Regions from separate parts of the Homo sapiens genome. Here region 1 is linked to region 2. Evidence: fine-mapped expression QTL. A gene starts in region 2. The other region holds a variant in brackets. All regions are shown on one strand. Distances are between the middles of the regions.

What was found. PIP is the estimated chance that this variant, and not a neighbour inherited with it, causes the effect.
Region 1: its variant is fine-mapped to the expression of MCOLN2 in whole blood (TOPMed, PIP above 0.99).

What each region holds. Positions count from the first base shown.
Region 1 is chr1:84,928,363-84,933,736 of GRCh38, reverse strand. MCOLN2 (mucolipin TRP cation channel 2) reads left to right here. Exons shown (of 14, transcript NM_153259.4): 12 at 2,169-2,375; 13 at 4,058-4,179. Among named protein-coding and RNA genes, the nearest start is that of LPAR3, 38 kb to the right of the region's middle. The variant C/G (reference allele first, on the strand shown) is at 2,134.
Region 2 is chr1:84,993,674-84,999,047 of GRCh38, reverse strand. It overlaps MCOLN2 (mucolipin TRP cation channel 2), which reads left to right and starts at 1,935. Exons shown (of 14, transcript NM_153259.4): 1 at 1,935-2,252. The coding sequence starts at 2,176. RefSeq lists enhancers at 201-1,072, 3,393-3,452 and silencers at 1,643-1,932, 2,543-2,592.

The DNA.
Region 1 (5,374 bases), 65 kb after region 2:
CCTGAAGCACAGACAGTTGTGCTTGGAGTTAGGGGTTCTTGAAACTAGAGAAAGGAGTTGACTGGATTCCAAAAGAAACTAAGAAATGTGAATTATTAATGGTGCTGTCAGAGTTGTAGTTGACATCCATAGAAACCAACTTTAATGTCAATGTTTTCAGCTTTAACTTCAATGTTTTAAGGCTTGTGTAGCGTATGGAAAATATTTACTCTGGCAATCGCCTGTTTTACTGTTAAATAATCTACATATTGTTAAGTGATCTGTTCATTTGGATATTTCCTCTAGGTCTTTTTGGAGGAGGACTTTAGTTCATCAGAGTTTTTGCTGATGCAGCAAAGCCATGGGTGGGATCCTTGTTTGGGGTGCGTTTGTAGACCTTCTCCCTTGGCCACCAACTTTACCTTGCCTGGTCCAGCCACGTGGCTGGTAGTGTAAGGCACGGTGTTTGTATCTAGTTGGAGTACAGGGAAGTGTGTATAAAAACAATTAGAAGACCATAGTTCATTCTGTGATTCTTACCGATACGGAGTGCAGAGAAAGGACTAGAACTACCAGGGCACTTGGTCTTGAAGTACACTCTGAAATGACCCTTGAACATTGGCTTAATTGGACACAGAGAAGAGAAAGAAGAATAGAGCAGGTGAGGAGAATAAATTCCATGAGGGAAAAATGTAGGGATGGGCCTGGTGTTGGAGGAGAAGATAAGCACAGCATATTAATACTGTCAAGGAGGAGATGTGATGAGGCTGCATAAAGGAGGAACTTATCACAACCTTCTTGGTTTAGATTTTTATTTTGCATCCAAACTTTGTATAATCTCACAAGGGAGAAATGACCTGAAAGCCTTCTTCTTAAAGTACAGGTTTTACTGCAGCTTTGACTGGGGAGGGTAAAGAGATTGGAGTAAAAGAGACTTCCTTGGAAGTTTCTTTAATAATTCAGAAATTTGTGTTGACATCACAGTAGAGTAGTAAGGGTGGATTGGAGAAACATGTGATAGGAACAGACAGGCCTTAGAAGACTGAAAGCGGGGAAGAGTAATCAATTCAACACAGAGTTTTAAGGACTTAATTATTTCAGAGTAAATGTTTCTTTGGTAGGAGATTGGAATCACTGACAGAAATAGGGCAATTTAGAAAAAAAAGTTCATTTTTCTGGTTAGGGTGGTGAAAAGTTTTGTTTTGTTGGCATTTTCAAGGAATGGTCTGTTATATAACAAATGCCAGCTGAGCACAGTGGCTCATGCCTGTAATCCAAGCACTTTGGGAGGCTGAGGTGGGCGGATCACCTGAGGCCAGGAGTTCGAGACCAGCCTGGCCAACATGGTGAAACCCCATCTCTACAAAAAAATACAAAAATTAGCCGGGCTTGGTGGCAGGCACCTGTAATCCCATCTATTTGGGAGGCCGACACATGAGAATCGCTTGAACACTGGAGGCAGAGGTTGCAGTGAGCTGGGATTGCACTGCACTCCAGCCTGGGTGGCAGAGTAAGACTCTGTCTCAAACAAACAAACAAAACCTACAAATGCTCTCTAAGTGTAGAAAACATAAGAAGATGCTTATGTTAATTAGGAGAAAAACCAGGATCTAAACTTGTTAGATCCTGGTTTTAGATATATAAAAAGTACATAGGGAAAAACTGTGGGAATTGTTAAGAGATTAACTTTGAGAGTATGGAGGGGTGTGTGTGTGTGTGTGTGTGTGTTTTAAAGAGACAGGGTCTCGCTGTGTCCCCCAGGCTGCAGTGCAGTGGCAGAAGCTTGGCTCACTGTACCCTGAACCTCCTGGATGCAAGAGATTCTCCCACCCCAGCCTCCTGAATAGCTGGGACTACAGGCATATCACCATGCCCAGATAATTTTTGTACTTTTTGTAGAGATGGGGTCTTGTAATCTTTCCCAGGCTGGTCTCAAACTCCTGGGCTCAAGTGATCCTCCAACCTTGGCCTCCCAAAGTGCTGGGATTGTAGGGATGAGCCACTGTGCCTGGCCCAGAGGGGGTTTTTGAATAATGTTTTCCTACTTCTTATGGTGTTCTAGCATCTTAAAATAAGTAAGTTACCACTACTACAATGACAAAAACAATGTTAACAAAACAAGCTAACTAGATATCCTCTGCTTTTTAGAATACT[C/G]TATTTCAGAAACTAGTTTTTATTTCCCCCTACAGTTTGAAAATCTGAACACAGTTGCTGAGTGTCTGTTTTCTCTGGTCAACGGTGATGACATGTTTGCAACCTTTGCCCAAATCCAGCAGAAGAGCATCTTGGTGTGGCTGTTCAGTCGTCTGTATTTATATTCCTTCATCAGCCTTTTTATATATATGATTCTCAGTCTTTTTATTGCACTTATTACAGATTCTTATGACACCATTAAGGTAAGTAATTATCAAAATTTGCTGCCAAAAAATCACTGCAAATTCTATATAGATTATAGGAAAATACCACATTTTAAAAACTTAAAATATTACAGTTCAGATTTTGAGGTTTTGTGGACAAACTTTTTAGACGCTGGAGATGAATTTTAGGGCATTGTCCCTGTTACCCACAGCAGGGTGGATTGGTTTGGAGGGGTGGTGGGAAAGAAAAGGGAAATGGGGTAAGCATGGGTTGAATGGGGTAAGTCAGGTAGTCAGGCTGCTGGTCTTAGCCCTGACAGATATACCTGCCAGTGTGGCTGCCTGGAACTTAGGATTGAGTCATAAGTTTCAGGGATGAGAGGTGACCGGCACCCTGACAACTCTCAGATATTGCTACAACTCACACTGGATAATACAGCTACTGGCATGGTGCAGGCTTCCTTTAAATTATGAAAACTAAGGCTTTTGTGACTGTTTAGCTTCCTGCTTTCTTAAGCTACCTGATGGGTTCTGTATCCTTTCAGACTAGGCCATTTAACTGATTTGTGGCTTGAAGGAATTTCACTTCCTTGGGTGCTGGTACCTTATTCACAGCAGATGGTCATGCTTAGAAAACCCTGCTTCAGGGTCAGTGACTGAAAAACCAGGGGTGCCATGCCAGTGCCTTTGTCAGGGCTGTTTTCTGCTTAACCACTTTCTCAGAATAATGCAGAAGAAACCCAGTCCGCTACCTTTTGAGTGTGTGGGAAGATAAGTAAGTGTTCAGGTGGGAATGGTAGTTGCCTCTCGCATCAGGGTTTGCATGGAGAAGGAAGAGGTGCACACTCCTGCCACAGAGATTCATGTCTTTGATGTGGCAATGTCTCTGCGTGGTGGGGGCCAAGCCTCAGTGTTGAAGTAGGTTATCTCATTAAGCATGAGGGGAGGGAGTCTTTGTGTCTGCTTGGAAAAAAATCTCTCTTCTGTTCCACTAAGCGACCAACTTCCATAAAAGTAGAGGAAATAATGATTACTTTCCAAGCAGAGTCTACATTGCCAATGTGTGTGTGGAGTGGGAGGTCTCATCTAGTCTTGCTGTTAGCATTAAAAGTTTAGACTTTTTTTTTTTTTAAAAAAAGAGAGAGGGTCTTGCTCTGTTTCCCAGGCTGGAGGACAGTGGTATAATCCTACCTCATTATAGCCTCCAACTCCAGGGCTCAGTCGATCCTCCTGCCTCAGCCTCCAGAGTAGCTGGGACTACAGGTGCACACCACCATGGCCAGAAAATTTTTGTATTTTTTGTAGAGATGGGGTCTCACCATCTTGCCCAGGCCAGTCTCAAACTCCTGGGCTCAAGCGATCCTCCCTTCTTGGCCTCCCAAAGTGCTGGGATTACAGGCATGAGCCATCATACCCAGACTAGACATTTGACTTTTGATTATTTCCTTCATTACCTTTTTTTTTTTTAAAAAAAACCTCTCCCTGGCTCTTCTCTGCTTTCTTTCTGAAGTTTTTCTTTGGATTGTTCTCTGTTCCCACAGTGGCCCTGCCTTGGTGTTCTGGGACTGACAGATTGATTCATCATTGTAAATATCAGTTCTTGGATCTGAGCTAGCAATGTGGGAGAGTTTTATTTTAGCAAAGGTGGGCTTGGTTTGTTGACAAAAGAGCAATTTCTCATGCCTTATAAATAAGGTAACAACATTGTGTACTTTCTAAAGAAATTCCAACAGAATGGGTTTCCTGAAACGGATTTGCAGGAATTCCTGAAGGAATGCAGTAGCAAAGAAGAGTATCAGAAAGAGTCCTCAGCCTTCCTGTCCTGCATCTGCTGTCGGAGGAGGTCAGTATCATGTTTATTCTCCATGCTCCTGAGATGGGCTGTTCTGTTGTCTTAAGAAAGAGCCCCTCCAAGATTACCATTACATTCAGAGACCAGCTTATCATGGGAAATAATTCACCTTTCTTTTCTTTCCTCCCACTGAAATTGGCTTTAGAAATGAATTATTTCTTCTAAAACAGGGTTATGTAGAAAGCTACACGATGTGATTGGAATCTCTTAGAAATACTATAAGACTCTTAAGAGAAGGCATAAATTATGTCCTTAAAGTCAAGAGGCTGAACTCTTAAGTGGCCCAAGTAAGAGGTCAAAGCTCTTATTTTTAGAGGTGAAACTCTGGGAGTGTCAGAGGTGTTTTCCCTTTTCACAGTATGTGGTACAAGCAATCTTTCTTGATGAGAGCAGGAAACTTCCTTGCGAAGAGGCTGTCCAAGTGCTTGCTTATCCGTGCACACCAGTAGCTCTTCCTTGCCTAGCTGTGCTTTGCCTGTTGTTCGTCAGGACATGTAGAGAAATGGTCTAGACCTCAGTGGACAAAGCATATTACATAGTGATTTGTGGACTAGAATGGGGTCAGGTGAAGACAATTTTTTTTTTAATGTGCCTATGTTTGCTTTCATCTGAAGTCAGGGGTGCCAGTTTGTAACTAAAAGTATACCCTACATATGTTTTTTCTTTTTGGAAGGACTCTGTAACCCAAATTCCTGAAGGAAGCTATGAGAACATAATTGCTATTTAAAACCACAGGATGCATTTTTCTGTTAATCAATTCATACAGCATCTTGGGACTTACAATGATATGACTGAGCAGATCCAGAGAATGTCTGGTAAATAGAAAATGAGATCTGAGAAGAGTTGTTTTCAGAATCACACCTTTTTTTCTCAGAGCATTAAATTGTTGCTGTGAAAGCTGGGATAAAGGAAATTAATTTTCTTAATAGGCAGCTGCCTCCTAAGAGGTACCTTGTATAAGGAAAGTCTCTCAAAATCTCTTTTTTACTATAAGGGGGATAAACTTCATTGAAAAATGTAGTCATGAATTCTAAAAAGTAAACGATAGGTCTTTGGTGTTTGGACCTTGGTTTGTGCCACACAAAGTCCTGGGAGGTTGTTAAATGTTTTGTCATGCAGCCCTATGGAACAAGTGAAAGATTTAAGGCGTGGACCCCAAGACGTTTGGGTAAGATTGGGTCTGAGT
Region 2 (5,374 bases):
GAAGCCCTACTGTGAACTGCGCATGCGATGGATCTAAGTTGCAGGTTGTGTGCTCCTTATAAGACTCTAATGCCTACTGATCTAAGGTGCAACAGTTTCATCCCGAAAACATCCTCCCCTCATCCCCCCACCTGTCCGTGGAAAATATCATCTTCCATGGAACCAGTCCCTGGTGCCAAAAGGTTGGGGTCTTACTATGTTGCCCAGGCTGGAGTGCAGTTACTATTCACAAAGCTGGATGATTGCGCACCTCCGATGAAAGGGGCTCAAAACCAAGGCATTTCTGCCTAATAACCCCTTGGAAGTGCCTTAAAAGAGGGTCAATTATGTGTGCTTTTATATACATCGTCTGTCCAACTGCTTCTGCCTGGACACGCATATTAAAATAATTACCTGGCAGAATATTCTTTGCCTGAGCTAAACCCGGAGATCTTTTAAACGCTTGCAGACTCACAGAGCCTGGCACTGCGGACTTTGCTGCTGCTACCTCGTGAAAAGGAGGGGTACGAGCTCTAGGAGGCTGTCGGCCACGTCCAAACTACCAAGCTAACATCACTAGGAGCCGAACACGGCTTTTGGTCATGTACTGACGACTCTCATCTCTAAGATTCACGAACGGCGACCGATTGTCTGTTCGATTTCCCACAGGCGTCTTCCTTTCGTGCACCAAGAGGGAAAAGCAACGGCGGCTGCAGCAGGGCGCTGGGGTTACGAGTCCAGCCCTGGGGCCGTGCGCCCTCCCTCCGCGCCCGCCGGGCCACGCTGACGCTCCCTCCCGGCTCCCTGCCTTTCATCCCGACGCGGGCGCAGGGCAACTCGCTTTTCCTATTCCTTGCGCGCCGGTCGCACTTTCTAACATCTCAGAAATATGGCCCTTGTCACAGACTTTCATGATCGTGCACTTTAGAGAAAAGCCAGAATGAATGAACTTGTCAGTTTAATGTGAAGTCCTCAAGGGAAAGGACCATGTCTTTGTCATCCCAGAGACCACAGTACCCAACGGTCGGCTTGGCTCTCAGTGAGTGTTTCCCTAAGCATCAAAACAGGAATGACCAAAGCAACGGACAAATTAATGCATGTGGAAACAAGAAATGAATGCATGAGAGAGTGAAGAAAAGAAGGGGCCAGGCGCAGCGGCTTACACCTGTAATCCTAGCACTTTGGGAGGCGGAGGCAGGAGAATCGCTTGGGTCCAGGAGTTCAAGACTGCAGTCAGCAGTGATCGCAGGTCAGGCGACAGAGTGAGACCCGGTCTCACCACCACCCCCCCGAAAAAGGCAGGAACCCCAGAGGGCCGGGAGTGCCAGGTGCGGCCGCCCGGGAGCGGTGTGGAGGGTGCGTGGGCCACTTTGCCGCAGGGCCCACCGCCCGGGTCCCTCTGTAAGGCGCTTCTCCGGCAGACACCCCGAGCCAAAGCGGGCCGTACCGCAGCGTTGGGCACTTGGGTGGAGAGTGCAAGGGCGGCGGGCCTGCGCCCAGACAGGTGTAGCCGTCCCACGCTAGGTGTCCTCCTGCCGCTCCCTGGCCGCGCCATGCCTCGAGGCATGGAGGTGCTGGACCTGCCGGTGTGCAACCGCGCCTCGGGCCTGTCCTGGGGGCCGCACCACAGGTCAGTGCCCCACGGCGCCCTTGGCGTGCCCCACGCCTCCCTGGGGGCCCCACCGCCGCCCCCTTTTGGGACTGCTTACTTCCTCGGCTCTTCTCGCGCGCGCCTCGGTTCCATCCCCTACGGCCCCCACCCCGCCTCCGCGTCGCCGACCCCCTTCTCCGGGAGCGCGGGGAGGCTGGTCCGCTGAAGCGTGGAATAAGTCCCCTAGGACCCCAACTGGGGAAGCTCCGGTCCCCGGTAGGAGGCGGCGGGGCGGGGCGGGGCGGGGCAGCCCCTTGGGGGCGGGGCGGGAGCGCCTGGCCACGCGCCGCATCCTGCAGGGTGCACACAGAGCCGCCTTTCAGCCGCCCGAGAACTGCCCGCCGCACTCCACGACTGCGGCGCCTGCTCTCGGGCCGGGGTCTGCGCGCACCACGCGGCCGGCAGAAAGGGTAAGAGAAGGGAACCCCGCTTTGCAGGGCTCCAACTTCGGCGGACGCGTTACGGCGAGGGCGAAATGAGTCGGCCGTGAACGGTGTTTCCTGTTCCGAATCCCGAGAGCCCTGGAAAGTTTTGAAGGAGGAGGCATGGCCCGGCAGCCTTATCGTTTTCCCCAGGCAAGGATTCCGGAGAGAGGATCAGGTGTTTTCAGGTTAACCGTCAGGTGAGGAGTCTGGGCTTCATCTTTCAGGATGCTGGACTGGAGAAATCTTCCTAAAGTCGATGGCTTTACTTTCGTAGACTAGAGCTTGCTTGCTGCCTTGGGAATGCTTATATTAACTGCTTGCAGTTAGTTAAATAAGGCTAGGCTGTGCCTTCCAGAACAAACAGGCCTTTCCCTCAGGTGGGAGGGTTGTAGTGTGGCTAACCCCAGTTCCTCGGCCTTTATGAAAAGGCGCACAGTTCAGCCGGTTGGCGCTGCCAGCGGGCCCCTCCTCCGTGGTCAAACCTCCAGCCACCCCAGCACAGTTGAGCCAAAGTTGTGAGTACAAACAGACCTTGGCTCCCCCGTTTCCTGCTCTCCAAACATATATATATATATATATATATATATATATATATATATGAAATATATACGTATGTGTAAGTGTGTGTGTCTCTGGTTGAACGGTACTTGTGGGAAACAAAATTGTGTGTCATTGTAAACTGAGAATGGAAGAAAAGGTTAGTAAGAGAAAGGTGGGAGAGGTTTCTTATGGGTGTCAGGATGTAGACTCTGATATTTTATGTAGAGGGAACCAACTACGTAGTTCTCCCCAGAAATGGGATGTGGGTTTCACTCTCAGGAGCTGCTCATCACCTTTGTGATGTGCTAACCAAAATCGCACAACTTTTGGGAAATTTGATAGCTTTCCCCTATTGAGTCAGAAGTTTCTTGAGACTTTAGCCTGTCTTCCTCTTCATACCTTAAGAGGAGTCAAACTCCCGTTGCCGTGAACTTTCCACAGGCACACCCTTCTCCTTTAGAAAACCGTTCATAGGTCAGTTTCTGTGGCCGGAACTCTAAAAACGACACATTTTCCATACAGAGGCCATCATAATACCAATTTTATTTAACCTCCTGTAATAAAAAATGAGTGAATCCTAATAAAGTGTTTGAGGTAGCCACATTCTTTTCTGTGAAGGAGGAACATATCAAAAGTGTTTTTTTTTAAAAAAATAGAGTAATAGATATAAAATATTTTAATGAAGCAAGTGAGAAGAACTGAGAGACATAGTTTGAGCAAAGGGGCACGAAATACAGAACTGAAAGTCAAGAATGATCATATTCACAAGCTGATCTCTTTGGCTATGTCTCTGTCAGTGAAGTGAAACCTAGAACAAGACAATTTTAAAACCGGCGGAAAAAGAGATGGCTTCTTGTGACTATAGCTTTCAAAGTAAAAGTAGTGGCCAAAGAAAACTCTTCTGGCTGTAAAAGTAAAAGTGGACTTTCCTGAAGCTGGGCTGTTTTCTTTAAGGCCTAGGGTCTAAGTTCCGTGTGTCAGTTCTGAAGAATTAAATCACTCTTTAGTGAGCTCTTGTGTCACATGTTAAGGGGTTCATAGAAAAAAGTGCAGGCATACCTTGTTTTATTGTTCTTTGCTTTATTGCACTTTGTAGATACTGCATTTAATTCAATTTTATTTTATTTTACAAATTGAAGGTTTGTGGCAACCCTGTGTCCAGCAAGTCTATTGGTGCCATTTTTCCAACAGCATGTGCTCACTTTGTGTCTCTATGTCACATTGTGGCAATTCTCTCAATATTTCAAACTTTTTCATCATTATTATTATATCTGTTATGGTGATCTGTGACCACTGATCTTTGATGTGACTACTGTAATTGTTTTGGGGTGCCATGAACTGTGCCCATATAAGACAGGGAACTCAATTAATAAATGTTGTATGTGTTCTGACTACTCCACCGACCAGCCATTCTTCTATCTCTTTTCCTCTCCCCAACCCTCTCTATTCCCTGAGACACCACAATATTGAAATTAGCCCAACTAATAACCCTACAGTGGTCTCTAAGTGTTTGAGTGCAAGGGACAATCACAGGTCTCTTACTTTAAAGGTAGGAGTGATTAAGCTTAGTGAGGAAGGTATGTTGAAAGCTGAGACAGACCAAAAGCTAGGCATTTTGTGCCATTTAGCCAAGTTTTGAATGCATATGAGATGTTCTTGAAGGAAATTATAAGTGCTACTCCAGTGAAAATACAAATGATAAGGAAGCAAAACAGCCTTATTGCTGTTATGGAGAAAGTTTTTGTGGTCTGGATAGAAGATCAAACCAGCACCAACATTCACTAAAGCTAAAGCATAATCTAGAGCAGGCCCAAACTCTCTTCAATTCTGTGAAGGCTGAGAGAGGTAATGAAGCTGCAGAAGAAAAGTTTCAAGCTAGCAGAGGTTGGTTCATGAGCTTTAAGAAAGGAAGCCATCTCTATAACATGTAAGTGCAAGGCGAAGCAGAAAGTGCTGATATAGAAGCTGCAGCAAGTTAGTTGGAAGATGTAGCTAAGATCATTGATGAAGGAGGCTACTCTAAACAACAGATTTTCAATGTAGACAAAACAGCCTTCTATTGGCAGGAGATGCCATCTAGGACTTTCCTAGTAGAGAGGACAAGCCAGCATCTGATTTCAAAGGTGCAAAGGACAGGATGACTCTCTAGTTAGGAACTAGTACAGCTGGTGACTTTTAAGTTGAAGCCAGTGCTCATTTACCATTCCAAAAATCCTAGGGCACTTAAGAATTATGTTAATCTACTCTGCCTCTGCTTTGTAAATGGAACAACAAAGCCTAGATGACAGTACACTTGTTTACAGCATGATTTACTGAATATTTTAAGCTCATGGTTGAGACCTACTGCTCAGAAAAAAAGATTTCTTTCAAAATATTACTGCTCATTGATAATACCTCTGATCATTGAAAAGTTCTGATGGAGATGTACAAGGAGATGAATGTTGTTTTCATATATGTTAACACAACATCCATTCTGCAGCCCATGGATCAAGGAGTAATTTCAACTTTCAAGACTTATTATTTGGCCGGGCGCGGTGGCTCACACCTGTAATCCCAGCACTTTGGGAGGCCGAGGCGGGTGGATCATGAGGTCAGGAGATCGAGACCATCCTGGCTAACAAGGTGAAACCCCGTCTCTACTAAAAATACAAAAAATTAGCCGGGCGTGGTGGCGGGCGCCTGTAGTCCCAGCTACTCGGGAGGCTGAGGCAGGAGAATGGCGTGAACCCGGGAGGCGGAGCTTGCAGTGAGCCGAGATTGCGCCACTGCAGTCCGCAGT